Linked DNA regions of Homo sapiens. The protein of the gene in region 2 interacts with the protein of the main gene of each other region in a pairwise test. Each region holds a gene or a part of one and is shown on either strand. Other genes may lie near its edges. The genes, in order: SLC25A6, AP2B1, TOR1A, DBH, A2M, SOD1 and AP1M1.

Region 1 (3,462 bases), on a different chromosome or scaffold from region 2:
GTGGGGGTCTTTGGGAGTCATGAGGCCTCATGGATGGGATCAGTGCCCTTACAGAAAGGACTCCAGAGAGCACCCTGGCCTCATCCATCATCTGAGGACACACAGGGAGAAGGCGCCATCTAGAAGCCAGGAACTGGGTACTCACCAGAGACTGAATCTACCATACCTTGGTTTTCTGGGACCTCCAGCCTCCAGAGCTGAGACATGAGATCATACAAATGCTCTCAGAGAGGGTACAGTAAGTGCAGGTGCCCTGGGGTCCTCCAGCATTTATCAGGGAGCCCGGCTACACTTCTGCCAGCCTTGGTTTCTACCCCCCGCCTCTTCCCAGCTGTGACCCTGCCCTCTGTGCCCCAGGGGTGCTGGGGAGGAGGCAGCACTGCAGACCAGGAACGTGGGCCAGCCACGGGCAGAGCGTGGCCCCATCTGCGTCCCGTGGGCCCAGCGCCCATCTCCAGACCCCAGGCCGCCCTGTGGAGAGGTGCGTGGCCAGGCAGGAGGACCTCTGCGTCCTCTGTTTATTGTTTTGCAGCAGGAGGCCCAACATAGAACATACTCGCCAGTACTCGGCTGTGCAAAACAGGGGCTAGCGCTGAAGTACAAATGGGAAAACGTGATTCTTTTGTTTTAAATAAATACTTAGAACACGACTTGGCTCCTACAAGCATCTGGACTCTAGGTCTCAGTACTGGAGTGTCTCACCCATGGGCCCCACGCAGGGACGCCACGGTTCCCTCCCACCCCGTGATCAAGACACGGAATCGGCTGCCGATGGTTGGATCGCAATGCGCCCCTTTTCTAGAGCCTTCCCCGGCCATCTACAGGCAGGATGCGGCTGGGAAAAAGACAACTGGAATTTCTCGAAGGTTGATGGTCCGCACGGTTGAGGATTCTACGTGGTTCTCTTGGTTCCCCTGGTGTGTGTGTGTGTGTGGAGGAGGCCGCGGCCCTTAGATCACCTTCTTGAGCTCGTCGTACAGGACCAGCACGAAGGCGCCCCCCATGCCCCGCAGGACGTTGGACCACGCACCCTTGAAGAAGGCCTTGCCCCCCTCATCTCTGAAGATCTTCCTCCAACAGTCGACGGTGCCCGTGTACATGATGTCAGCTGCAACGACAGGGAGACAGTGAGGGCCTCGCCGCCAAGCTCTTCAAGACACGGACGCCACCTGCACCCACAAAGACGTTTCACAGAAATAACACCCCAGACGCCTGAGCCACAGTTCTGATTACAGGAGGGATACCTGAGGCTCCCCCAGCTCAAGCCCTCCTCCTAAGCCACTGTCTCAGGGAGGGCTGGACACAGGACTTCAGGCCCCGCCCTGGGTGTCCCCCATCTCCACCCCGGGGTCCATGCAGAGAAGGCAGGATCGAGGGTGTGGGTGCAACCAGAGGTTCTAGGAGGCGGGGATTTAGAAACTGCCGCCCGGACCATGAAACCCCAAAAAGATCAGAAGCCCATCGTTCAGGAAAATCCTTCCACACAGCCAGGTTACTTTCGGACACACTTGCTTGTCTCACACGCCCTGGAAGTGCCTCCTTTGATGGTTCCTGACCTCCCACGGGCCTAGGGCAAGGAGCTTGGTTCCCCTTCCCGGCAGCAAGGGTCCCCCGCCCCCCCGAGTACCTCCTTTGCGCCCGGACTGCATCATCATGCGCCGCCGCACCGTGTCGAAGGGGTAGGACACCACGCCGGCCACGGCCGTCACGGTCTGCGCGATCATCCAGCTCACCACGATGTGCGTGTTCTTGGGGTCGGGGAGCATGCCTGCGCGGGAACGGCACGTCACCGTCTCCAGCGCCTGCACGGCCACCCGAGACCAGGGTCGGCCCCCAGGGTGTGCTCACGGCCCCCTGAGGTGGTGCCGAGCTCTTCCGAGACCACCAGTGCCCCCTCCACGTGGCTGCTCAGTGCCAGCTGACGTTTACAACACGAGAGGTCGGGGCAGGGCCAGAGGGGAAAAGGCCGCCTGCCACCTACCGGAGCCCAGCAAGACAGTCCCAGAGGCCGGGGTTAGGCCTGTTTGGGGAAGGGAATAGGGCCCTGACCTTCTGAAGGGTCACCGTTACTATGGGAGTTACACTCTGTCCTCAAAATCCACATGCTGAAGTCCCACCCCCACCCCAGGACCTCAGGATGCAACTGTACTTGGATATAAGGTCTTGAAAGAGGTAAGACTAAAGGAGGCCAGTAGGGTGGGCCCTGATCCTACGACCCCAGTGTCCTTCTAAAAAGAGATGAGGACACAGACACACGGAGGGATGACCCTGTGAGGACACAGGGAGAAGACGGTGTCTACAAGCCAAAAAGAGAGGCCTCAGAAGGAACCAGCCCTGCCCACTCCTTGATGTCAGACTTCCAGCCTCCAGGACTCCGGGAGAATCAATGTCTGCTGTTTATAAGCCACCCAGTCTATAGTATTGTTTTAGGAGCCTGAAATGGACTAAGACACCTCATAAGAAGAGCAGATAAGGACACAGACACACACAGAGGGATGACCCTGTGAGGACACAGGGAGAAGACGGCGTCTACAAGCCCAGGAGAGAGGCCTCAGGAGGAACCAGCCCTGCCCCACACCTTGATCTCAGACTTCCAGACTCCAGGATTATGGAAGAATCAATGTCTGTTGTTTACAGTCCACCCACTCTATGGTATTCTGTGATAGCAGCCTCAAATGGACTAAGACATCTCATCAGAAGAGGACACGAGGACACAGACACACACAGAGGGACGACCCTGTGAGGACACAGGGAAGACGGAGTCTCCAAGCCCAGGAGAGAGGCCTCAGGAGGAACCAGCCCTGCCCACACCTGGATCTCAGACTTCCAGCCTCCAGGACTGTGGGAGAATCAATGTCTGTTGTTTCTAAGTCACCCAGTCTATGGTGTTCTGGGATGGCAGCCTGAAATGGACTAAGACATCTCATAACAAGAGATGAGGACACAGACACACACACAGGAAAAAGCCTGAGAAGACAGCATCTCCAAGCCCAGGAGAGAGGCCTCAGGAGGAACCAGCCCTGCCCATGCCTTGGTCTCAGACCTTCAGCCTGCAGGACTGTGGGAGAATCAATGTCTGCTGTTTACAATCCACCCAGTCTATGGTATTCTGTGATAGCAGCCTGAAATGGATTAAGACATCTCATAACAAGAGGAGATGAGGACACAGACACACACAGAGGGACGACCCCGTGAGGGCACAGGGAGAAGACGGCATCTACAAGCCTAGGAGAGAGGCCGCAGGAGGAACCAGCCCTGCCCACACCTGGATCTCAGACCTCCAGCCTCCAGGACTGTAGGAAAATCAATGTCTGTTGTTTATAGTCACCCAGTCTATGGTATTCTGTGATAGCAGCCTGAAATGGATTAAGACATCCCATAAGAAGAGAGGATGAGGACACAGACACACACAGAGGGATGATGCTGTGAGGGCACAGGGAGAAGACGGCGTCTCCAAGTCCA
Region 2 (3,500 bases):
AAAGGCATATTATTTCAATCTACCATGATAATGGATATAGGAACAAAAACCTTCATTATGTAACTACACTGGAAAACAGGAGACGGAAGTGGGAATGGTGGGTGTATGAAGTAAACTTCTTATAGCAGATAGTTAACAGAAAAAGTCTATGATAGGTAAATTAATAAATAATAGCATAAGAATATTATTGTTGTTCTTTTTTTGAGACAGCGTCTTGCTCTGTCACCCAGAGTGAAAAGGTTTCAGGTTGGAGTGCAGTGGCACAATAACAGCTTACTACAGTCTCAGCCTCCCAGACTCAAGCAATCTTCCTGCCTCAGCCTTCCAAGTAGCTGGGACTACAGGTGTGTGCCACCACACCCAGCTAACTTAAAAAAGTTTTTGTAGAAACAGAGCCTTACTATGTTGCCTAGGGTGGTCTCAAACTGCTGGGCTCAAGCAGTCCTCTCACCTTGGCCTCCCAAAGTGCTGGGATTACAGGTGTGAGCCACTGCACCCAGCCAAGAATATTATTTAGAGATATGGCAGCCCAGTCATGTCTCCAAATCCATGGGAGATTGGTTCCTGGGCCCCTGTGGATACCAAAATCCATGGATGCTTAAGTGCCTTACATAAAATGGTATAGTATTTGCATTTATACACATTCTCTTGTATACTTTAAACCATCTCTAGATTATTTATAATACCTAATGCAATGTAAATACTATGTAAATAATTGTTATATTTTTAAGGAATATAGACAAAAAAAGGTCTGTACATGTTCAGTACAGACAAAACCATCCTTTTTCTTTTCCCCTGAATATTTTTGATCCGCAGTTAGCTGAATCCACGGATGTGGAACTCATGGATATGGAGGACCTATTTTAATCAAAAGAATAACTAAAAGCAAAATCAGAGTTAAAAATATTCCCTCTGAGAAGAAAGTCTAGGTAGGGAAGGGAGGAACCAGAGACAGCTGCTTTCCATTAAAAATTCTTTAACATTGAAACTGTGTGCTTTATTATTTTGATAAACTTAAAAATTATTTTAAAGAAAAAAGTGAAGAGAACTCTCAGAATCCCCAATACATGATCCTAACTACCATCAGACACTTGCCTCCACCTTGATGGCACACCGTCCAATGGCCCGCACAGCTTTTCGAACAAAGTCAACATCCACCTCTGTAGCATATTCTTTCAGTTCTGCCAGAACCTGTTAAACCCAGGAAGTGGTTAATCATTAAGGATTCTCAAATAGCAATCTCACAGCCTAGCTTCTTTAAAGGCCAGACCTTAAGAGCTAAATCATCATCAACTTGAGTCTGCATAAAGTCTGACCTGAGCAATGTTGGCTTGAGATGCCAAACGAATCATGATGTCCAACTTCTCTAGTTTAACATAGATGGGATCATTGTACTTCACAAAGAAGACTTTGATTTCCTGCTTCAAGATTTCAGGCCTAGGGTACACAGAAACAGAAGAAAGGAAGGTGAAGGCATATACTGATATACCCTTCTGAGACTGTATTAATACCTAATCTGTGCCTCTCTGCTCTCCTCTCGCTCCACTCAGGCAAAAAAAAAAAAAAAAAAAAAAAAGCATAAACTTCCTCTATACGCCTCTATTCTTATCAGTTCCACTTGGCAGATTATTTTTATCCTTTTTAAGCATCAGGGCACATGTTGCCATGAAGAACTGCTAGAACAACAATCTGGCTCTAAACTACAGCCTGAACCATATCAACCAGGCACTAGACAGTATATCAGAAAGAGACCCTTCAGAAAACAAACTGGATTGTGGAGCAACGCATGGCATTTATTATAGAAACACTGTAATATCAACTGTTAGCCTCCTGGTGCTAGGCAAGCAAGTTTTTCTGCCATATAACATTTTCATTTCCATATATTAAAAAGAGATTAACACTAGCCTAATTAACATTGACATTATTAAGCTTAATGCAAAATTACAAACACTTTAATCAACACTTCGCTATTTCCCAACCTTTTCTGGACAATTAAGTTGATGTTCCTCAGGGCGACATACTGCACTTCTGGCTCCCCAGACAGCAAAGTGACAAGTGGAGGGGCTAACTTCTTCAGCAGCATATTGTAGTAGTCAGAATCCTTAGGTAACAATTCTAGAAACTTCATTAGGACTTTTACCGCTGAAAGCACCACTGCTGAGTTGGCATGGGATAGCCGGGGAGTTACCCGCTCACAGATGCTGAGGGTGGAGAATGAAAATTAATATCATGAATTATAATTTATTTGCTGAATTCATTCTATAAGGTAATATGTCAGAGTCTAATGGCCAAGTATCAAAAAATTAAAGAATTAGTTAGAAAAGTCAAAGCTCCATGCTTAGGTAAAATTGGGATCCAACAATGCAGAAGCCTCATTCTCAGCAAACTACAGGCAGAGCAGGGACATAAGAAGACTTCAGGAAACCAGTAATAAGGGATGTTCAAACTGGAAAGAACCTAGCAATACCCAAGACACTTGAGCTCACACCATTTACCTTCTTGTTTTATAGTCCTCTTTGTCTCCCCATATTATGTTAAGGCTCCCTGCCTCTCAGCCCATTTCTACTCAACCTATAGGAAGTCAAATTAAGCATTCTGAGAGTTATTTCATAGGAAGAGACAGCAAACGCAGTTGTGGCTGAAGATTTCATTGTAAGATACAGCAGGAGGCAGGCTGGTAGGGAAAACAATCCAACCTCCTCTCTTAAGGATAATGAGAATAAGGGACTCTCTGAAAAGGGTTTGTTTTTTAAATAGCAGGACACCACTACTATATTTTCCTGTCTCCCCCCTCTCCTAGCCCCTGCCACCTACACTTACATGCCTCATAAAATGGTTGATATTTAATTATCTGTTGAGGGTTCTTTAGAAATTAATCCAATTTTGGTAGCTTGGGCAACACAAGTAGCTAACTTACTGTATTAAAGAAAGAAGATAAATAGGCTGTACTTCTCTCTTCCTCCTATTCCTGACTTCCTTTGGGTCTTTATATGAATGCCACCTTCTCAGTGAGGTCTTCCCTGGCCATCCTTTAAAAAGAAAATACAACCCCTCACCCCCAAATGCCCAGCATTTCTTAGATTTCTTCTCTACTTTACTTTCTTGTTAGTACTTATCACCATCTCACATATTACATATTACACTATCTATACATATTATATATTATATTATCTATACATATTATATATATTCCTACCCCCATCCTTCAGAATAAGTGATCCCAGAGGGCCATGACTTTGTTCACTGCTGTATCCTCAGAGCCTGGAACACTGCCTGGCACACAGTATGCACTTAATAAATATTTGCTAAGTGAGTGAATGAATGAATGTGATGTCAATGGCCAACAGAAGAAAATAAAATTCTCAGTAAAGTTATTTCCAGACTATATTTGTACTTTCAGTGATGGAAAGAAACTATCAGAGTGAGCTTTAGTTCAGTCCAGAGGGACAATTTCCCAGATAAGTGAAGATCACTTACATTCTAGTAGCTTGGAAATCAGC
Region 3 (3,500 bases), on a different chromosome or scaffold from region 2:
AGCTCTGCCTCCCAGGTTCACACCATTCTCCTGCCTCAGCCTGCCGAGTAGCTGGGACTACAGGCACCTGCCACCACACTCGGCAAATTTTTTGTATTTTTAGTAGAAACGGGGTTTCACCATGTTAGCCAGGATGGTCTTATCTCCTGACCTCGTGATCCGCCTGCCTCGGCCTCCCAAAGTGCTGGGATTACAGGCGTGAGCCACCACGCCTGGCCAGTTCCCCCATTTTCTTCAGCTACATGATTTTCTTTGTAGAAGAAAGAGCCAGTGGTTGAGCAAGGAAGGATGCCGTGGGCAGCTCAGGGGGAGAGATGACCTGTTAGTTCCTCCCTTTCTCTGCATTGCCCAAGAGCAACAGCCAAATAGCGGTTCGGCCCTTATTTTGTACTGGGCACCGTGTGAAACAGCCTGCCTGCGGATTTCACTCAGTCTTCACCATACCTCGCAGGGTAGAGACTGAGACTCAGAGATGTGGCAGCTTGCCCAGGGCCATGCAGCCTGTTCGGTATCTCTGATTCTAAAACCTGAGCTTTTAAGTTTTAGCTCACTACTTCTCCAAATGTCATGAGACCTTTGACCTTGAACCTGGGGAGGTGGAAAGCCAGCCTGATGGAGGCTGACTCACTGGCTAAGACCTGTGAGTTGTGCAGGGCTGGCTGTTCAAGTCTTTGCGCTTCAGGTTCTGGAGATGACAAAACAGAAGGGCTCATTTGAAACAGACTTGCCAAGAAATTAATCCTACAGTTAGTGAACAGCATGGGGTACAGTATGTCAGTGTGTGCAAGTGGAATACTACTGAGGAAAGACAAGTATTTTGTAACATGTTGGATAGTTTCTTGCCTTGCCAAAAAACATGAGCACATGCAGTGGAAACTTTAGCCTAATGCTGAGGCAGATGAGCCCCGTGGCCTAGAATCCACGCTGTGGAGGTTACACGGTGCTTAGGAGTGCCAACCTGGGAGTCGGGCAGCCCTGGCCCACAGACTGACTGTGACCTCAGGCAGATGGCTGAACATTGATTCAGCACATGTATATGGAGCATCTGGTAAGTGCCAGGCATCATACCTAGGACGGGGGACACAGCAGTGAACAAACACAGAAATTCTTGCCCTTATCAATCCTACATCCTAGTGATAATAAAGAAAGAAAATGTATCAGATGATGGGGGATAGATATGTTGATGTGTGTGATGTGTTTGTGTGTATACATGCAGTACATATGCACACATCGCACATGTACACATGTGGACATATAGATATCTTTCCCCCCGGGGCCAGTAGGGGAAAAAAATCAAGAAAGGCTTTGGGGTTCAGGGTAAGGATGGGCTCTGCTTTAATAGAGTGGACAGGGAAGGCTCCCTGTGAGGGTGGCATTTGGGCTGACCCGGGGGAGTGAGCCATGTGGATGTCTGAGGGAAAAGCATTCCCCAGTGCGGACAGCACGTCCAGGGGCCCGAGGGGGGCCTGTGCTTGGGGTCCCTGTGACTGGTTGAGGATAAACAGAGGAGGGAAACGGGAGGTGATAGAAGAGGCGAGATTTGGGGTGGAGGTGCAGACCGTGGGAAGCCTGGCGGGCCATGGTGAACCTTGAGTCTTATTCCAAGTGGAAGAGAGAGGCCTGGAGGGTCCTGGGCAGGTGGTGCTGTGATCTGACGGGGCCTTCACAGGACCTTGCTGGCAACTGGATGGAGGACAGACCCACAGCCACAGGGGCAGGGAGCCCAGCGTGGAAGCGGTGGGGGTGGAGGGACACGGTTGGCTTCTGGGTGTGTTTTGAAGGTAGAACCTGTAAGACTTCCTGCAGAATTGTATATGGGAATGAGAGAAGAATCAAGGACCTGGCTTGAGCGATGGGAAGGGTGGCACTGCCATTGAAGGGAAGGGACAGCAGGAAGGACGGGCGAGCTCAGTGGGCAATGGCATCAGGGCATCAGAGCAGAGCCACGAAGCTCCAGGGAGGCCATCAGGCCAGGAGGGCAAACTTGGGAGTCCTCAGGAGATGACTGTGAAGTCTCAGGGCTGCCTGAGGTCACCTGTTCTGCCGTCACTCCTGGGTCTGCGTGGCTGGGTCCTTGTTGCTCGGGCTCTGCCCTGAGGTCCTGCCCAGCCTGCTCCACCTCCCGCTCTCCATGTCCGTTCTGCTGTGTGGCATTCGCCACTCCAAGCACCATCTGAGATTGTTTCCTGCCCTAGAGTGGTAAAGCCGTGAGGTCCGTCTGCCCTCAGCTGTGTCCCCAGGCCCAGGGCGTGCCTGGCACAGAGCAGGCCTCTGAGAACCAGCCTCCCACGTGAGTTCATGATAGCAAGACAGCCCCTCGTTCCCATTCAGTGGTTGGTTCTGTTCTTTCCCTGGCCATAGGCTCCACTCTGTCAGTCAGCCACACATTTATTGAGTACCAGTTGTGTGCAAAGCACTGTTGGGCATGAAAAGCATTAACCCAGTGAATGAGGAGGAGCTTGGGTTGGGGACGGAGCCCCAGAATTACATGGCAGACCAGAAGGGAATCAGCTCAGTAGAAGACACGCATGGGCTCGTGGGCGACGCAGTGTGTGCTGTGTCATCTGGGGCTGGGAGGAAGTGTCCTGGGTCAGGAGTTCCAGGAGCCCAGGAGGAGTGGACGGGTCAGTGCAGAGCCAGCCCGCATTCAGGGGAGAAAACACGGCCAAGGCCAGGCCTTCACGGGGAGCCCAGCGTGGGCTGCACATCTGCACTCTCCAGGCTAGTTTTGGTGCCCACATGCTCTGCAGGGTCTGGGCACTGTGGCAGCGGCAGCAGGCTTCCCTGTTGCTAGTCCAGCTGCTGAAACTCCAGGGAGAGTCAAAAAGTTCCCAAATACAGAGGCGTGGCTGGTAGTCCTTCCCGGGAATTCTTCTTGCTTCCCGCTTTCTGTGGAACTCTGCCTTCCCCACTCTGCCTCTCTGCTTGTTCCTGGGCCCCAGGACCTCTTTCCCATCTTCGATCTCTTAAGTCATACCTTGGGAGGCCTCCCCCAGCCCGCCGTGTAAAGAGGGCTGTCACAGCTTCTGCTGTCACAGAAGCATTACAATGTGCAGGTGCCTGTTAACATCTGCCTTCCCCACTGATCTGGAGCTCCACAAGGGAGAGGGCACACCCAGTAGGTATGTGTGGGATGGATAGGAGGGTGGATGACACCCAGTAGATGTGTATGGGATGGATAGGAGGGTGGATGACACCCAGTAGGTGTGTATGGGATGGATGGGAGGGTGGGTGACCCCTAGTAGATGTGGGGGGGGTGGGTGGGTGACCCCCAGTAGGTGTGTGTGGCATGGATAGGTGACCCCCAGTAGACGTTTGTGGGACGGATGGGAGGGTAGGTAAGTGACCCCCAGGAGGCGTCTATAGGGCAGGTGGGTGGATGTGGATGAACAGCACCTTGTTTCTTCTTCCCAGGTGGCTTCTGGCACAGCAGCTTAATTGACCGGAACCTCATTGATTATTTTGTTCCCTTCCTCCCCCTGGAATACAAACACCTAAAA
Region 4 (3,956 bases), on a different chromosome or scaffold from region 2:
CCTTGCCCTCCCAAAGTGCTGGAATTACAGGCATGAGCCACCACACCCAGCCTGAAGCACCACTTTAAACCCTGCAGCCTAGGCATTGTTCCCCTCACCTTAGTCCCAGCCCTGCTTGGAGAAGGTAAACTGAGGCCCAGGGAGGCATTGGACCTGCTGCATTCTCCGAGGATGCTTCCTGGGATCTGGATCAGTGACCTCTGCCCTCCCCGTCTCCGGCCGCTCCCCTTGCACTGGGCCCTAAGGGGCAGGGACACGGTGGCCCGAGGCCAGGTCACATGGAAGACCACCAGGGAGACCCACTGAGAGACAGCGAGGAGCCTTCCCCAACAAGCAGGCTGCCCTTCGTACTCAAGAAGGGCCCTTCTTAGATTCCATATTTGTCTATTTGGCATCTATTAATTGATTGAAGGCTCAAACAGATGGTCAGAGTTGTTTACACCTGTCCTGCCCTCCAACATTCACACGTGTGTGAGAATCATATTCCTAACATTCCGACCCACACCAAGCCCATATCCCTAGCTACCTCCTCCACCTGACTCTCACACCCCAGGCCAATATTGCCCCAACCCTAAAACACCCTAGGGCCAGGAACCAGGCAACTAGAGACCACCCCAGCCACCCAGAGCCCACCAGAATTGTCCAAACGAAGCTGCTTCCCTGCCCTGCCTGGCCTTTCCCATGGAAACCCCAAGAAAGCCTCGGGCCCTTGGCCTTAAGGACTTTGGGTTGTGTTTCTTTTTAATCTTACATTCAGGGTAAAACATCTTTTCTTCATTTCCTTGAGAAAAAAGAAATCTGCAAAAGATACTGCAAAACTTTCCCTAGAGAAAAAAGCCACACAATGCAACCCCGCTGGGGACACCGCTGGTTTGCCGAGAGACTCATTTTAAACAGAGGCAGAAAGTTCGCCTGTGATATTTCAGCTGGAAATCAAGAAGATATTAGTTGAACATATTGCTTAGGGAGGAATAATAAGGCTGACATTTGCTTTCGTAGGAATTTGTTGTGCAAATTAACCTTGCCAGTGCACGGAAAGGCAAAGTCACCTGGCTTCCTCTGGCTTCCCTAGCAGCCGGGAAATGCAGGCAGGGGGGACGCTGCCCCAGAGAGGAGCAAATGCTCCTGCACTCAGGGTGCCTCATGGCAGAGGCTTGCGAAGAACCCCAAACTGTCAGCGATGGGGTTCAGCTGCTCCTCCAGACGGCTGACGGCTCAGAATCAGGGCTGTCCCAGGTCTTTCTTGGCTGGAACCTGAGCCACAGAGTGTCTTTGTGCACAGGAATCTGTGCAGCCCTATGGGTCAGAGCAGGGCCCTTCCCAGGCAGCTCCACTCACCCTACCTGGGTGGCCCTAAGCCTCACTAGCGACACAGGCAAGTGCCTCCTGGCCGAGTCTTGGGAATTGGAGGGGGCAAGCTCAGCTCCAGAAACAGCAGCCACCATCTGCCCTCATGAATTCACAACACCCAAAAAGGCAGAGAGGGACTCTCCGCCCCACCAGCCCATGGTGAGACCAAGATGCAGAGCTGGAGCCGGCCGCTCCGCACAGACACAGCTCCCCCGCTCCAGCTCGGCACTCCCAGATAAAGCAGGCACCTCCTGACTTCAGAAATAAAACTTTTTTGTCACTCCTTTGTGTGTTTCTGTGGAGAGAGTTGGGTTTCATCCACAAAGAAGCCCTGGTGGCCAGTCCCATGTGGAAAGGAAGGCTGGAGCAGGACCCATTGTAGGCGGTGGGCTCGCCCACTTCGGGGACCCCCTGCAGCTTGTGGAAGGGCCTAAAGTCCCCTCCAGTTTGAAGGGAAACTTTTCCCCTTTCTCCACCCTGTGAAACAAGAGTGGAGGTAAATTTGGACGGAAAGGAGTCAAGAGCCCATCCTAACAGTTTTGGCTGAGCCCTGTGGGGCTTGTTCAACACCTATGGGTAGGGGCAGGGTGTCTGCACCTGCTCAGTTGGTCCACGGGTACAAGCACAGTAGGTCAGGCTGGATCCCATGGGTGTGCAGGCCTCATGCTGTGCCCAGCCACGCGCCACCACCTGGCCCACATCAGTGGGCATGTGTGCTCTGGGGACGTGGTACTAGGCATTGTTTACAGGGCCGAGGGTCGTGGGGTCTGTGCTCATGCGCGTGTGGGGTGTGGAGCGGCACGAGTGTGTGTGGTGTGTGCGTCCTCTGTGTATAGTTCCATTCCTTGGGATTACTGGGTCCCATGATTTGGGGCGGGCAGTCAAGGACCATGGAAAGCATGTCTTTCCTATTTTGTCCTCAAACTGAGATCCCCATGATGCCCAAGCTCGGGGTGCAGACTTGGCTCAGAGCAGAGTCAACTCAAACACTGACAGGTGACAGAAGAACTTTCTGGGTTAAGGAGGGTGAGTGCAGAAAGACGGCCAGATGGGGTGCCGGGTCAGGAAGGGTTTGGAGAGCTGGCAGGGAGGAGAGACTCACCGCAAAATAGGCAGTGTCCCCATCGGTCCAGAGCACCACGAGATCTGCGTTCTCAAGCTCGCCACGGTCGGACATCCCAAACAGGACGCCAGCCTTGAGCCTCCGCACCAGGAGCTGGAAATGGATGGCCTCCTGGGTGTAGCTGACATTCCATGAGAGCTCCAGGGACCCCTCCGGGTCCAGGGGGATGTGATAGGGGAGGGGGCTCTCACGGGGAGCCGAGCCCTGCAGTGCGGCCACCAGGATGACCAGGAAGATGGCCACTGCTGTGCTGTACATGAAGGCTGCCTCCCGCATGCTGGGGCCGGGCAGGCTGGCCCAGCGACTGAGGGCGGGCATGGCTGGGGTGAGCTCTCTGGTCCCACCTGGCCATTTATGCCCTGGTCCTGAATGGGGTGGGTCCAGGCAGCACGGGTAATCACATTTGTCTAGCGGGGAATCCAATTTTCCCTCCCACAAGCTTGCGCCCCAGGCCAAGCACTCAGCCTGCTGCCCTCCTCTAATTGGCACTAATGACACATGGACGTCATCAGTGGGAGTTGAAGTAGACAGGCGGATGCTGTCCCTTCTGAGATGGCTCTGAAGAGCTGTCCCAAAAGCAGATGCACCCTGCAGCCAAGAGGCCTTTCAGACACCCTCTGGCCAGGCACCAGCTGACTGCCTCACAGGCTGTCTGGCCCAGTCCCCAGTGGGATGGGGTCTGCGTCGCCTCTACCCACGGATGAGCAGACTGAGGTCCGAGGAGCTGCTCCAGGCTGACCAGTGAAGGATAGGCCCGTAGCCACTGCAGGCCTGGCCTAGCGAGCAGAGCCGTTTGTACAATACTAGCAGGTGGGCCCATTTCAAACCAAAAATAAGACAATCTCCAAATAGTCCCTGTGTTTAGACACTCTCTCCACGGCCTGCTCTTCCCACTTTTGTCTCCTCTCAATTTTTCCACAGCCTCCAGCTGGTACCACTGCTGCTCCAGAAGGCGCGAGAGCATCATAGGGAGTGGGGGACATGGGCGTGGGGTGCATTGCTGGGGACAGACGGAGCTGGAGCTGCACAGGGGATAGGCAGGCTGCAGGGTGCACTGCTGGGGGTGACAGCCTTTAAGGAAAAGAGGGTGAGTGACAGGCCTGCTCCCCTGTCTCTGAAGCTCCCAAACCCACAGCTTCCTCTTGCCCAGAGCAGATCTGGCCTGAATTTGAAGCCTCTCAGGGCAGCTGGCCGCAGCCCTGCTTCTCCCACACCTGCCACAGGACCTTTGCCATCATCCACCCGTGGGCCCGAGGGTCAGTCTCACCACGGCACCTCTCCCTCCTGTCCTCTCCCACAAGTAGACTGAGGGCAGCTGCCTTCAGGACATTCTGCTTGATCCCTCCAGCTCCACCCCCCAGGCTGGGTTGACAGATCTCTCCAGCTGGACTAGAAGCTGTCCCTCCTCCCCAGCCTCCTCCCTCCCTTCCTTCCTTTTCCCTCCTGTTTCTCGTCTCTCTGGAGAAACCCAGAATCTAGCCTT
Region 5 (3,500 bases), on a different chromosome or scaffold from region 2:
TGCCTAGGCTCGTCTCGATCTCCTGGCCTCACGCAATCCACCCACCTCAGCCTCCCAAAGTGCTGGGATTACAGGCGTGAGCTACCGTGCCTGGCCTAGGCTGACTATTTTTAATGCTCCCTGCAATCTGGATTCTAATACCTCAGAGGCCCTATTTGGGTTATATTTCCAACTTTTCTTCCTGTAGAAGTTATTCCTTAGCTCCTTTCAGGCTTCCTCTACCTTCATCCCCAGCTCCCAATAGCACTAGTGAATCCTTGAGCAAAACATTTTGTTCATATCTTAATGTATATTTTGGTGACAACACATATATGATCACCCCAAACAGGGAACAGGTAGAAATAATAATTTCATTGTCAAGACTAGCACAGTGCTGGCACGTGGAAAGCATTCAAGACACTTTTTGAAATGAGTAAACATTCAAATTAGAGGGAGGTGCTTTTATGCCATCTATTAAAGCTAAATAAATAAAATGTATTATTTATTTCTCTATAACAAGGTAAAACTCTAAAGAGGCAGGCGTTTTCCATTACCATGATTATGTAATATATATTAAATATGTATTGTATATCCATGTATCTATAGACATGTCTACATCTCTCTTGATGAATAGAGGACTGCATGCTATACCGAATAACTTATATTGGTATGAACAGGTCATCTGGAGAAAATTAGAATAGCAAGACAAAATAAAGTAAGGTAATAATTTTTGGAGTATATATATTTAAAACTAAATGCTAATTATGTTAGAATTGGCTTTTATAGTAAAAGTATCTAACAGTTAAAGGGGGCTTACTAAGTGATTCAACATGTATGATTTCACTTAATCTTCACAACCACCCCAAGAGTCAGGTGTTAGTATTGCAATCATTTTACAGATAAGGAAATGAAGCACAGAGGTTTTAGTTAATTCCTTAAAATAGGGTTGAGCCAGTATTTTTAACCACTTTATCTGATTCAGATTCTGGAATTCACACTTTTCAAAAAAGTTATTATAAACACACACACACACACAACATAAAATTACCATCTTCATTATTCTTTAGTGTACAGTTTGGTAGTATTAAGTATATCTGTTGTGCAACAGATCTCCAGAACTTTTCATCTTGTAAAACTAAACCTGAATACCAATAAGAGGAATTCCCCATTTCTCTCTTTCCCTAGCCCTTGGCAACCACCATCCTGTTTTCTGTTTCTATGACTTTGACTACTTTAGAAACCCCATGTACGTGAATCATACAGTATTGGTCTTTTTGTGACTAGCTTATTTCACTTACCATAACGTCCTCAAGGATCATTCATGCTGTAGCATGTGACAGGATTTTCTTCCCTTCTCAGGCTGCATAATATTCTGTTGTATTTATATACCACATTTTGTTTACCTGTTCATCCCTTGATGGACATTTGGGTAGCCTCGATCTCTCAGCTATTGTGAATAGTGCGGCTATGAACACGGGTGTGCAAATAGCTCTTTGAGACCCCGTTTTCGATTCTTTTGAATATATGTCCAGAAGTAGGATTACTGGATCATTTGGTAATTCTATTTTTTAATTTTTTCAGGAACTACTATACTGTTTTTCATAGTGGCTCCGCCATTTTACGTTCCCAGCAACACTGCTAAAGTCTAACCCGCACTTTTAATCACAATATACTGCCTTCTTTTCATAAACTTTAAAAAAGTTAACCTTCAATCGGTTTCTAATTGCTAGTTTTTTTCTCTCCATAGAACTAGACACAGTTTGGAAATTTTCTCACCCTTAGGTTGCAACCTTGTTTCCAAGGCTACTTCATGTCATTGGTAATTTCTTTCCAAACTTACCCTAACAGTAAGAGAGGTACCCATAACATTGGTGGTGTTGATAGAGAACTGTACAAGGCCATGCTCATCCGTGGTAGCATTGGAGTAATAGTTTGCTTCATTTCCTCTGATGAATATGACTTTATTTGGTATAGGGACGCCTTTCCCATCTACTAGGCGCACCTGAAGATTAAAAGCTGTGGATTAGTTATATTGGTAATAACTAATAGGCACCAAACATATTCATTTATCACATTTTTTAGTGCCTCCTCTATGTTGAACATGGTTCCAGGCACTGAGGACACAGCAGTGAAAAAAAACGAAGTTTCTTCCATCACAGAGCTTACTGTCTAGTGAAAGAGATAGATGCTAAATAAATATATACATAACATACACTAATTTAGTAGTAATCAATCCTAAGAAGAAAAACAGAGCAGTGTGAAGGGATAGAGAGTGATAGGGATAATAACAAGAGTGACCTGAAAAATGTCTTCTAGATATTTTGGAAGTGCTGTGTATTATTATATATAACTCTTAGAGAGTCACAGAGCACTAGAGTAATATGATAATGAAATATTTTAATCTATTAATCTATTAACTAAATTTATTTGTGCCCCAAACACCTATTTTGGAGTGGACCATTAACTTCCTATAGATTAGTGTCTGAAGTCTCATAAGTGCACAAGTAAACAATTGCCAATACATTGTCCTGTGTGTTTCTCCAGTTGCCTTAGACATGGTCTCTGCTTCTCAACCTAGATCTTCAGCCTTTTGGAAGGTAGGCAGATTTTATGACACACTTCCCATGTGAAAAATATAAAATTGAAAAGAGGCACACAGTATTAAATAAGTTGCCAAATCTAATTTACTGCTAATATTGTATTGGCAGTTGAGTAGTCCAGTTCAGATTGTAAAGGTGGCAATTCTTTTTCAGTATAAGCTACAGTTGGTAGCAGGAAGAACAATAGGCTGACCCCCATCAGTACTCATAATTGATTTACAAAATCTAAGTTTGCCAGTGAAATGTTGGCTGCATGTACAAAGACAAGAATAGGCACATAATTCTGATTTTCTTCTAGCTAGAGAGTCTTATGACAAATAGGATATTTAACAGCAATAAAATGTACTTACAAAGTACACTATCTTTCTGAGAAATTTACAAATGAGCTACACTTTCATTTTAGGAAGTTGAATACATTTTGGTGTCATGACATAACCAAGCCTTCTAGAATGTACTCCACTTTGTTGAGTCTATGCCTCTTTTACACCCTTCATAGCTGAAATCCTGTAACATTTACATTAAGAAAATGATACACAGTAAATACACATTGAGGCACATGTAACTGTGATCTCAGACTTCTAGAGTCATAAAGATCCATTTGCACATCTGCTGACAACAGAAAAATTGTAAGAGAAGATTTTTTTGGTAGATAACATGAAAATTCATAATTCAAAAATCTGAGAACCTTAAATAGCAGTGTTTTACCCCATGTTCACTGTTTTAGAAATATACTTGTTATAGAAAAATAGTGTAAATATACTATCCATGAAATAAACATTATTGTAGAATCTTTAATACTTCAAAATAAAAATTAAAACCACCTACCCACCTGTTTCCATACAAAGTTAGTGTTAGCATCGTAATGAAACTGGTCAGCATGAATTTTGAGATTCTTGTGAGAAAATGTCATAAAAACCTGAG
Region 6 (3,370 bases), on a different chromosome or scaffold from region 2:
TCACTAATTCGGTGTGTAAATTATTTCTCAACAGCCAGAACCCACAGTCAAACATTTCCTTGGTTCCATCTTCTAATGCTACAGATTGCTTTAAAGGGCTAATCTGTAAGTAGGTTGTGCCAGCGTCTACCCTTGAATGTAGAATTTGTGCCATTCTGGCAGGTAGATAATCTTACTAGCTAGCTGAGGCTGTAACTTGCCTTTCAAAGCTCACTAAAAAGTTATCAAATGGCTCTCTTACATCATAATGTCTTTTTAAAATGAGGAGGTACTTTATGAATCAAAATGCTAAAATGACTAAGCAGGAACATTTCCCTAAAGCTTTCAAAGGACAGCCTATTTGTCTAAGCAGAGTTGTGTTAGTTTTAGCTAAAAGACCTGCTGTTTTAAAGTATGCATTTTGATGGTCTCAAAACACTTTCAAAATAAAATGCTATCACTGTTAGTATTACTAAATCTGTTCCACTGAAGCTGTTTATATAAATAAGTATCAGAGCTAATTTAGTTTGAATTTGGATTCTTTTAATAGCCTCATAATAAGTGCCATACAGGGTTTTTATTCACAGGCTTGAATGACAAAGAAATTCTGACAAGTTTAATACCCATCTGTGATTTAAGTCTGGCAAAATACAGGTCATTGAAACAGACATTTTAACTGAGTTTTATAAAACTATACAAATCTTCCAAGTGATCATAAATCAGTTTCTCACTACAGGTACTTTAAAGCAACTCTGAAAAAGTCACACAATTACACTTTTAAGATTACAGTGTTTAATGTTTATCAGGATACATTTCTACAGCTAGCAGGATAACAGATGAGTTAAGGGGCCTCAGACTACATCCAAGGGAATGTTTATTGGGCGATCCCAATTACACCACAAGCCAAACGACTTCCAGCGTTTCCTGTCTTTGTACTTTCTTCATTTCCACCTTTGCCCAAGTCATCTGCTTTTTCATGGACCTGTAAAAAATTTTAAGAAGATAACTTTGGGCTGTCAAGTAATCACTACCTCCTCCCAACAATACCCAAAAGATGTTTAAGAACCTCATAATATTAGAAAAATAACATTAATCCTAGTAGAGAGATATACTAATATTTAGTAGTTTAAAAGTAGAAACTACTACTCAAAGCTTTTTCTTGGTGTTGCAAAGACATTACCTTTAAACATTAGGTAAGTGTTGCTGTCTAAATGAAATACTAAAACCCAAATAACTATGTTGTAGACCACCACACGCTACCCTTAATCCTCCATGGTAAGTTACAGTAACCTTAGTTCCGCAGTCACTCTTACTTTGGCAGTTTTTTTAATTGCTTTGGAAAAAAAGGAAAGTGAAAGTGAATAAAACTCAAAATTTCATGCCAAATGAATGACGGGCCTATAAGTAAGGTATAATCCTAAAAAATCTTAATACTTTAAGCAACAGTATTTTGAATTTTGTTCAACAAACCTTTATAAATGATTTTTCTGCTTTACAACTATGGCTCAAGAAAAACCATAAAAATAAAGGGTTAACTGAATGGAAGTGACTACTGAATGTTAATGCCCTCAAGGGGAGGTAAAAGAGAGCCTGTCTACTTGGTGTTTTGCAAGAACCAGATGCAGTTCCCCAGGATAACTTGGGACAACAGCTTCCCACAAGTTAAACAAGTCATGATAACCTGCAGTCCTGAATGAACATGAATGAACATGAATACTTAAGTCCATCCCAGGTTTTAAACTTAACAAAATGTTCTGTTTAACAAGTGAGAAACCCAATCCTGGCAAGAAAATCTGGCCATTTTAAAACTAAAGACTACTTCTGTTTTCCAAACTCAGATCTAATATGGTCAAATGTAACCTGCTTTTTACTGCATCTTAGCAGAACAGTGTTCTTAACTGACCTAGATAAAATAATTCATTTTCACCGTAATTGTCCAATAAAATTGCTTTTCCTAATTTGAACTGCAAGTACAGTTTATCTGGATCTTTAGAAACCGCGACTAACAATCAAAGTGAAAAGATACATGACTGTATGTTAGAAGAAGTTTTATGCATATCCTTTTATGAAAACTTACCACCAGTGTGCGGCCAATGATGCAATGGTCTCCTGAGAGTGAGATCACAGAATCTTCAATAGACACATCGGCCACACCATCTTTGTCAGCAGTCACATTGCCCAAGTCTCCAACATGCCTAATAATGAAAAAGCATCAGATGGATTAGGGCTGATGCCACTAAACATCAAGGTAGTTCATGAGCTAAATTAAAACTTGACTGAGTAGACACAAATTTGCAAACAAGTAGCTAGGCATTCTAAATACAGCTCTTCAAACAAGGCTTCACGTCTACACACTAATGCTCTGGGAAGAAAGATGGGGCTGCACCTGATTTCAGAAGTACCAAAGGGTAAACTCTCAGTTACTGAGTTATGCCTGTTAATTACTGGCATAGCTAACAAAGCTATGTCCCAAGGCCTCTGATATAAAAATCTTGTCCTTAAATTTAATATTTTTCTGAAAGGCTTTCAGAAAACATACACATATAAATGGAGTCTCGACTAGTTTTCAGTATCAATTTTTTTTTTTATCTACAGAAGCTTCCTATGTTTCACAATGATGATTGATTTTGCTAGTGGTTGACAGTACTGTTCATGACATTTCCTGTATTAGTTCCCCTTTGGCACTTGTATTAGTTCTATATTCAATAAATGCTACAAAACCAAATCGTTTTAAGTGTCCCCATTTGTCAATTCCTTTAAGCCCAGGAAGTAAAAGCATTCCAGCATTTGGGAGCAGGGGTTTAGATGAGTCAGCAAGTTCAAAAGCAAAGGTGGGGGAAACACGGAATTATCTTAGCACATATTTACAAGTAGTATACCATATGAACTCCAGAAAGCTATCGCCATTATTACAAGAGTTAAGCATCTTGTTACCTCTCTTCATCCTTTGGCCCACCGTGTTTTCTGGATAGAGGATTAAAGTGAGGACCTGCACTGGTACAGCCTATTTATAAGAAGAAGAAAAAAAAGCTAAATTATGAATTAAAGTTCCCAAATACATTCTAAAAAGAAACACTGCTAAAACTTCCCATGGAGAAAGTGCTGACCTGCATCACGACTTCTGGGATAAGCAACACCTTGGTACAGCCACAGTGAGAAGGGAACAGAAACAAGTCTATGGCCAGGCATGGTGGCTAACACCTGGAACCCCAGCACTTTGGGAAGCTGAGGTGGCTGGATCATCTGAGGTCAGGAGTTTGAGACCAGCCTGGCCAGCATAGCAAAACCCTGTCTCTACTGAAAAAATACAAAAATTAGCTAGGCGTGGTGGTGCGCACCTATAGTCCCAGCTACTTAGTAGGCTGAGGCAGGAGAATCGCTTGAACCTGGG
Region 7 (3,500 bases), on a different chromosome or scaffold from region 2:
GCTGTGAGTGGCAAAGCAGGCCCTTCCGCAGTAGTGTGGGTACTGAGATGGGCTTGCGGGTCTGCCCAAAGCTGTGGGGTGGCCAGTTAGACCTCCTGGATAGAAACTGGCTTGGCCAAGTCTCCCCATGGGCCCAAGGACAGGAAGGGTGGGGGGCTCTGAGATCTGGGCGGGGCTGTACCCCACCACCCCTCCGTGGTCCAGGCCACTTCCCCTCCCACCTGCACGATGGCCCCAGCCTACTCCCCACCTACCCATGTCCTCTCCTGTCCCCACAGTCTTGCCCCACTCAGCAGCCAGAAACCTCCAGAAGACACACATCTAAAAGCCTCCAGAGACTTCCTGTCACATTTCAGATGATGTTCTTTGAGACCCCAGACCCCGCTGACCACTCCAGCCTCGCTGCCCTACACGCCCCCTCTCCAGCCACCCCGAGTGCAGCTGTTGGAATGAGGCTCTTCCCTGCAGAGCCTTCACCCACGCCTAGTGCCTGCCCACCCCTCCAGCTGGCAGAAGCCAGGCCTCCCTGCAGGCTTCCTCCAGGGTGTCATTTCCCTTCCTGGGCCCCTGGGCTGAAGAGGTTCAAGTCACACCTGCTCCTCTCCCCACACCCATCACACATGTCATCGTGCATTGTCTGCCTGTCTCCGCAGGCAGCAGGGAGCTCCAGGAGGGCATGGCTGTGTCCAATGCTTGCGCTGTGCACAAACCAGCCCTGCTTGCAGGCGTGTGGATATGCACACACACCAACACCCACACAGGAGTCCCCTGGGAGCACCCCCAGCAAAGGGATACGATACAGGTTGTTGTGTTTGATCCACATGAAACGGACCCCCCCGTGGGCCAGGATGGGCGACAGCATCCCCTCCTCCTCCTTCTCCATCAGGATGGGCATGAAGTGCTCCACCTCTGACATGTCCACGTCGCCACGGTAGTTCCGGCAGATGAGCACCTGGGGTGGGGAAGGAAGAGAAAAGATGCTTGCATTTTCAGTTCTACAATCTGGGGGCTTGGGGCAGGGGGTGAGATGCACCACCCTGCTTCGCTCTGGGGACTCCGGTCATGGCCACTATCCGCAAAAGAGCAGGACTTGAGGCCGTTCTGATCTCCATCCCCCAGGGAATTCCTGGAGAAGAGCATCTCCCAGTGTGAATGCCCACAGGGGCCACTGCAGTTCTTCGCAGGGTGAGGGTAGAGGCGAACTCTGCAGCAAAGGTCCAGGACTGAATCACCCAGAGACATCAGGTTAAGCAATGCCTCACAAGCTCTCAATGCAGACCTTCTCAGAGCCTTTGCCGGGCCAACGCACCTTGCTCTCCCGCCTGTGTCAGGGCGCCCACTCCCGCTGAAGGTTCGTATTTACTGAAGTCCACAGGTGGCCTGAAGGGAGAAGCCCTCTTCCTGGTCTCTCTCTTTCATAGCCTGTGGGTCAGGATATACAGCATCCAGAACCCCTGTCCACTGCTGATAGGAATGGAAAATGGGACAACTACTTTGGTGTAGTCTGGCAGTTTCTCAAAAAGTGAAACCCAGAGTTACCATACGATCCAGTCATTCCTCTCTCTGGTATTTACCCAAGAGAAATGAAACCACATGTCTGCACAAACACTAGCACGAGAATCTTAACAGCAGCTTTAATTGAAACAGACCCAGACTAGAAACAATGCCAATGTCCTTCAGCAGGTGAACTAGAAACAAACTGTATCCGTGCACACCATGAGAAGCATGCCTCAGCAACGGAAGGGATCGGACTCCCGATACACAGGCGCATCAGAATCACTGTGCTGGCTGAGAGAAACCAGACAAACGAGAGCTCATCCTGCATGACTGCACGTGTATAAAATCCTAGAAAATGGTGATGAAAAACACATCGGTGGGTGCCTAGGGATGGGGCTAGACAGCAAAGGGGTGTGAAGAAGCTTTCGGGGGCGATGGAATGTGTGGTTATGGCTTCCCACATGACTGAGCTCATCAAATTGTACACTTTAGATAAGTGCAGGTTATTAATGTAAATTATACCTCATTAAAGAATAAAAAGGAGGTCGGAAGTTTTGCTAGCCTGGGCATGGCTGCGGTTGGAGATGCTGCCTGGAGCAGCTGCAGCTCTTGGGGCCTGCAGGACAGCCAGCTGCAGGACTCAGCAACATGCTGAGAAGGCCATTGCGGCGCTGACCATCCTGGGAACCACCTGCCTCAGAACTTGGCATTTCATCACACGCTGCCTTTATTCTCTCAAGGCGAGACTGGGGGTGGTGCGGGGTGGCACCTTCCTTTCCTAGTGTCTGCTTCGTGGCCTGTGGAACTGATTGGAGGGAGGCAGGTGATGACGTGTTGAGGGAACAGCCCCTCCCCCTGCTGTCACTCTTGACCCCCCAGGTCCTTCCTCACAAAGGGTGACAGGGCTCTTCCTACACAGAAGCCAGACGGGGTCTCTCCCCCACTGCTGAACTGCCACTTACCCCAGCCTCCCCGGCACTGAGAACAAAGCCCAAGCCCGTCCCCATGGCTCCCAAGGACCAGCGTGGTCTGGCTCCTCACAGCCCCTCTGACGCCTCTCTGCCTGCGCTGCCCTGGTTCACTCTGCTCCAGCCTGGCCCCTTAGCTGGTCTCTGAGTGATCCACATCTGTTCCCACCTCGGGCCTTTGCCCTGACCTGGCTCTTCTCATTTCTCAAGCCTCAGCTCAAATAACACCTCCTCTAGGAAGTCCTCCCAGCTGGGCGCGGTGGCTCACGCCTGTAATCCCAGCACTTTGGGAGGCTGAGGCAGGCGGATCATCTGAAGTCAGGAGTTTGAGACCAGCCTGACCAATATGGTGAAACCCTGTCTCTACTAAAAATACAAAATTAGCCAGGCGTGGTGGTGCATGCCTGTAGTCCCAGCTACTTGGGAGGCTGAGGCAGGAGAATCACTTGAACCTGGGAGGCAGAGGTTGCAGTGAGCCGAGATTGTGCCATTGCACTCCAGCTTGGCTGACAGAACGTAACTCCATCTCAAAAAAAAAAAAAAAAAAAAAAAAAAAAGAAATCCTCCCTGCTTGCTCTGGCTGAGATCATGTCCCATCCCTCTGAACCCTGACCCCTGCTTTATCCCTATCACCTGGTGCATTAAACATTTATTTCTATCCTCCTTTACTGTCTGACATCCCCTGAGAACAGCAACTACTCCTGTCTCATTCACAGCTGTTTTCCAGCACCCAGAAAGGGGCCTGGACCATAGTAGGTGCTCAGTAAACATTTGTGGAGTGAAAACAGGGGTGAGGAGACAAAGGAGGCGAGGATAACGTCCAGGTCTCTTGTGCAGATGGCTGAATGGGTGATGGCATCACTGAAATGGAAAGAGAGCAGGTACAGGGAGTGCATTTAGAAGAATGCTGAATTTATGGTGGCGGCGGGACCTCTCTGGTGTCTCAGAGGCCACTAGATCTCCAGAGAAATGCTGTGAACAAAATTGAGAGTCACTGGCCCATGGACATGAGTCAAAGCCCACCTGGGAAGAGTG

What was found.
Region 1: the proteins of AP2B1 (region 2) and SLC25A6 interact in binary tests that used the Homo sapiens proteins (3 or more experiments, as listed by UniProt).
Region 3: the proteins of AP2B1 (region 2) and TOR1A interact in binary tests that used the Homo sapiens proteins (3 or more experiments, as listed by UniProt).
Region 4: the proteins of AP2B1 (region 2) and DBH interact in binary tests that used the Homo sapiens proteins (3 or more experiments, as listed by UniProt).
Region 5: the proteins of AP2B1 (region 2) and A2M interact in binary tests that used the Homo sapiens proteins (3 or more experiments, as listed by UniProt).
Region 6: the proteins of AP2B1 (region 2) and SOD1 interact in binary tests that used the Homo sapiens proteins (3 or more experiments, as listed by UniProt).
Region 7: the proteins of AP2B1 (region 2) and AP1M1 interact in binary tests that used the Homo sapiens proteins (3 or more experiments, as listed by UniProt).

Annotation. Positions count from the first base shown.
Region 1 is NC_000023.11:1,385,652-1,389,113, forward strand, and holds the end of SLC25A6 (ADP/ATP translocase 3), read right to left. Parts: intron 1,769-3,462; coding exon 1,628-1,768; intron 1,109-1,627; coding exon 951-1,108; 3' UTR 501-950; downstream 1-500. UniProt on the Homo sapiens protein: ADP:ATP antiporter that mediates import of ADP into the mitochondrial matrix for ATP synthesis, and export of ATP out to fuel the cell.
Region 2 is NC_000017.11:35,625,322-35,628,821, reverse strand, and holds part of AP2B1 (AP-2 complex subunit beta), read right to left. Parts: intron 2,202-3,500; coding exon 1,980-2,201; intron 1,438-1,979; coding exon 1,317-1,437; intron 1,192-1,316; coding exon 1,096-1,191; intron 1-1,095. UniProt on the Homo sapiens protein: Component of the adaptor protein complex 2 (AP-2). Adaptor protein complexes function in protein transport via transport vesicles in different membrane traffic pathways.
Region 3 is NC_000009.12:129,814,137-129,817,636, reverse strand, and holds part of TOR1A (torsin-1A precursor), read left to right. Parts: intron 1-3,414; coding exon 3,415-3,500. UniProt on the Homo sapiens protein: Protein with chaperone functions important for the control of protein folding, processing, stability and localization as well as for the reduction of misfolded protein aggregates.
Region 4 is NC_000009.12:133,635,207-133,639,162, reverse strand, and holds the start of DBH (dopamine beta-hydroxylase precursor), read right to left. Parts: upstream 2,801-3,956; 5' UTR 2,792-2,800; coding exon 2,453-2,791; intron 1-2,452. UniProt on the Homo sapiens protein: Catalyzes the hydroxylation of dopamine to noradrenaline (also known as norepinephrine), and is thus vital for regulation of these neurotransmitters.
Region 5 is NC_000012.12:9,102,420-9,105,919, forward strand, and holds part of A2M (alpha-2-macroglobulin isoform a precursor), read right to left. Parts: intron 1,982-3,500; coding exon 1,820-1,981; intron 1-1,819. UniProt on the Homo sapiens protein: Is able to inhibit all four classes of proteinases by a unique 'trapping' mechanism. This protein has a peptide stretch, called the 'bait region' which contains specific cleavage sites for different proteinases.
Region 6 is NC_000021.9:31,666,062-31,669,431, reverse strand, and holds the end of SOD1 (superoxide dismutase [Cu-Zn]), read right to left. Parts: intron 2,984-3,370; coding exon 2,914-2,983; intron 2,175-2,913; coding exon 2,057-2,174; intron 962-2,056; coding exon 854-961; 3' UTR 501-853; downstream 1-500. UniProt on the Homo sapiens protein: Destroys radicals which are normally produced within the cells and which are toxic to biological systems.
Region 7 is NC_000019.10:16,200,911-16,204,410, reverse strand, and holds part of AP1M1 (AP-1 complex subunit mu-1), read right to left. Parts: intron 953-3,500; coding exon 796-952; intron 1-795. UniProt on the Homo sapiens protein: Subunit of clathrin-associated adaptor protein complex 1 that plays a role in protein sorting in the trans-Golgi network (TGN) and endosomes.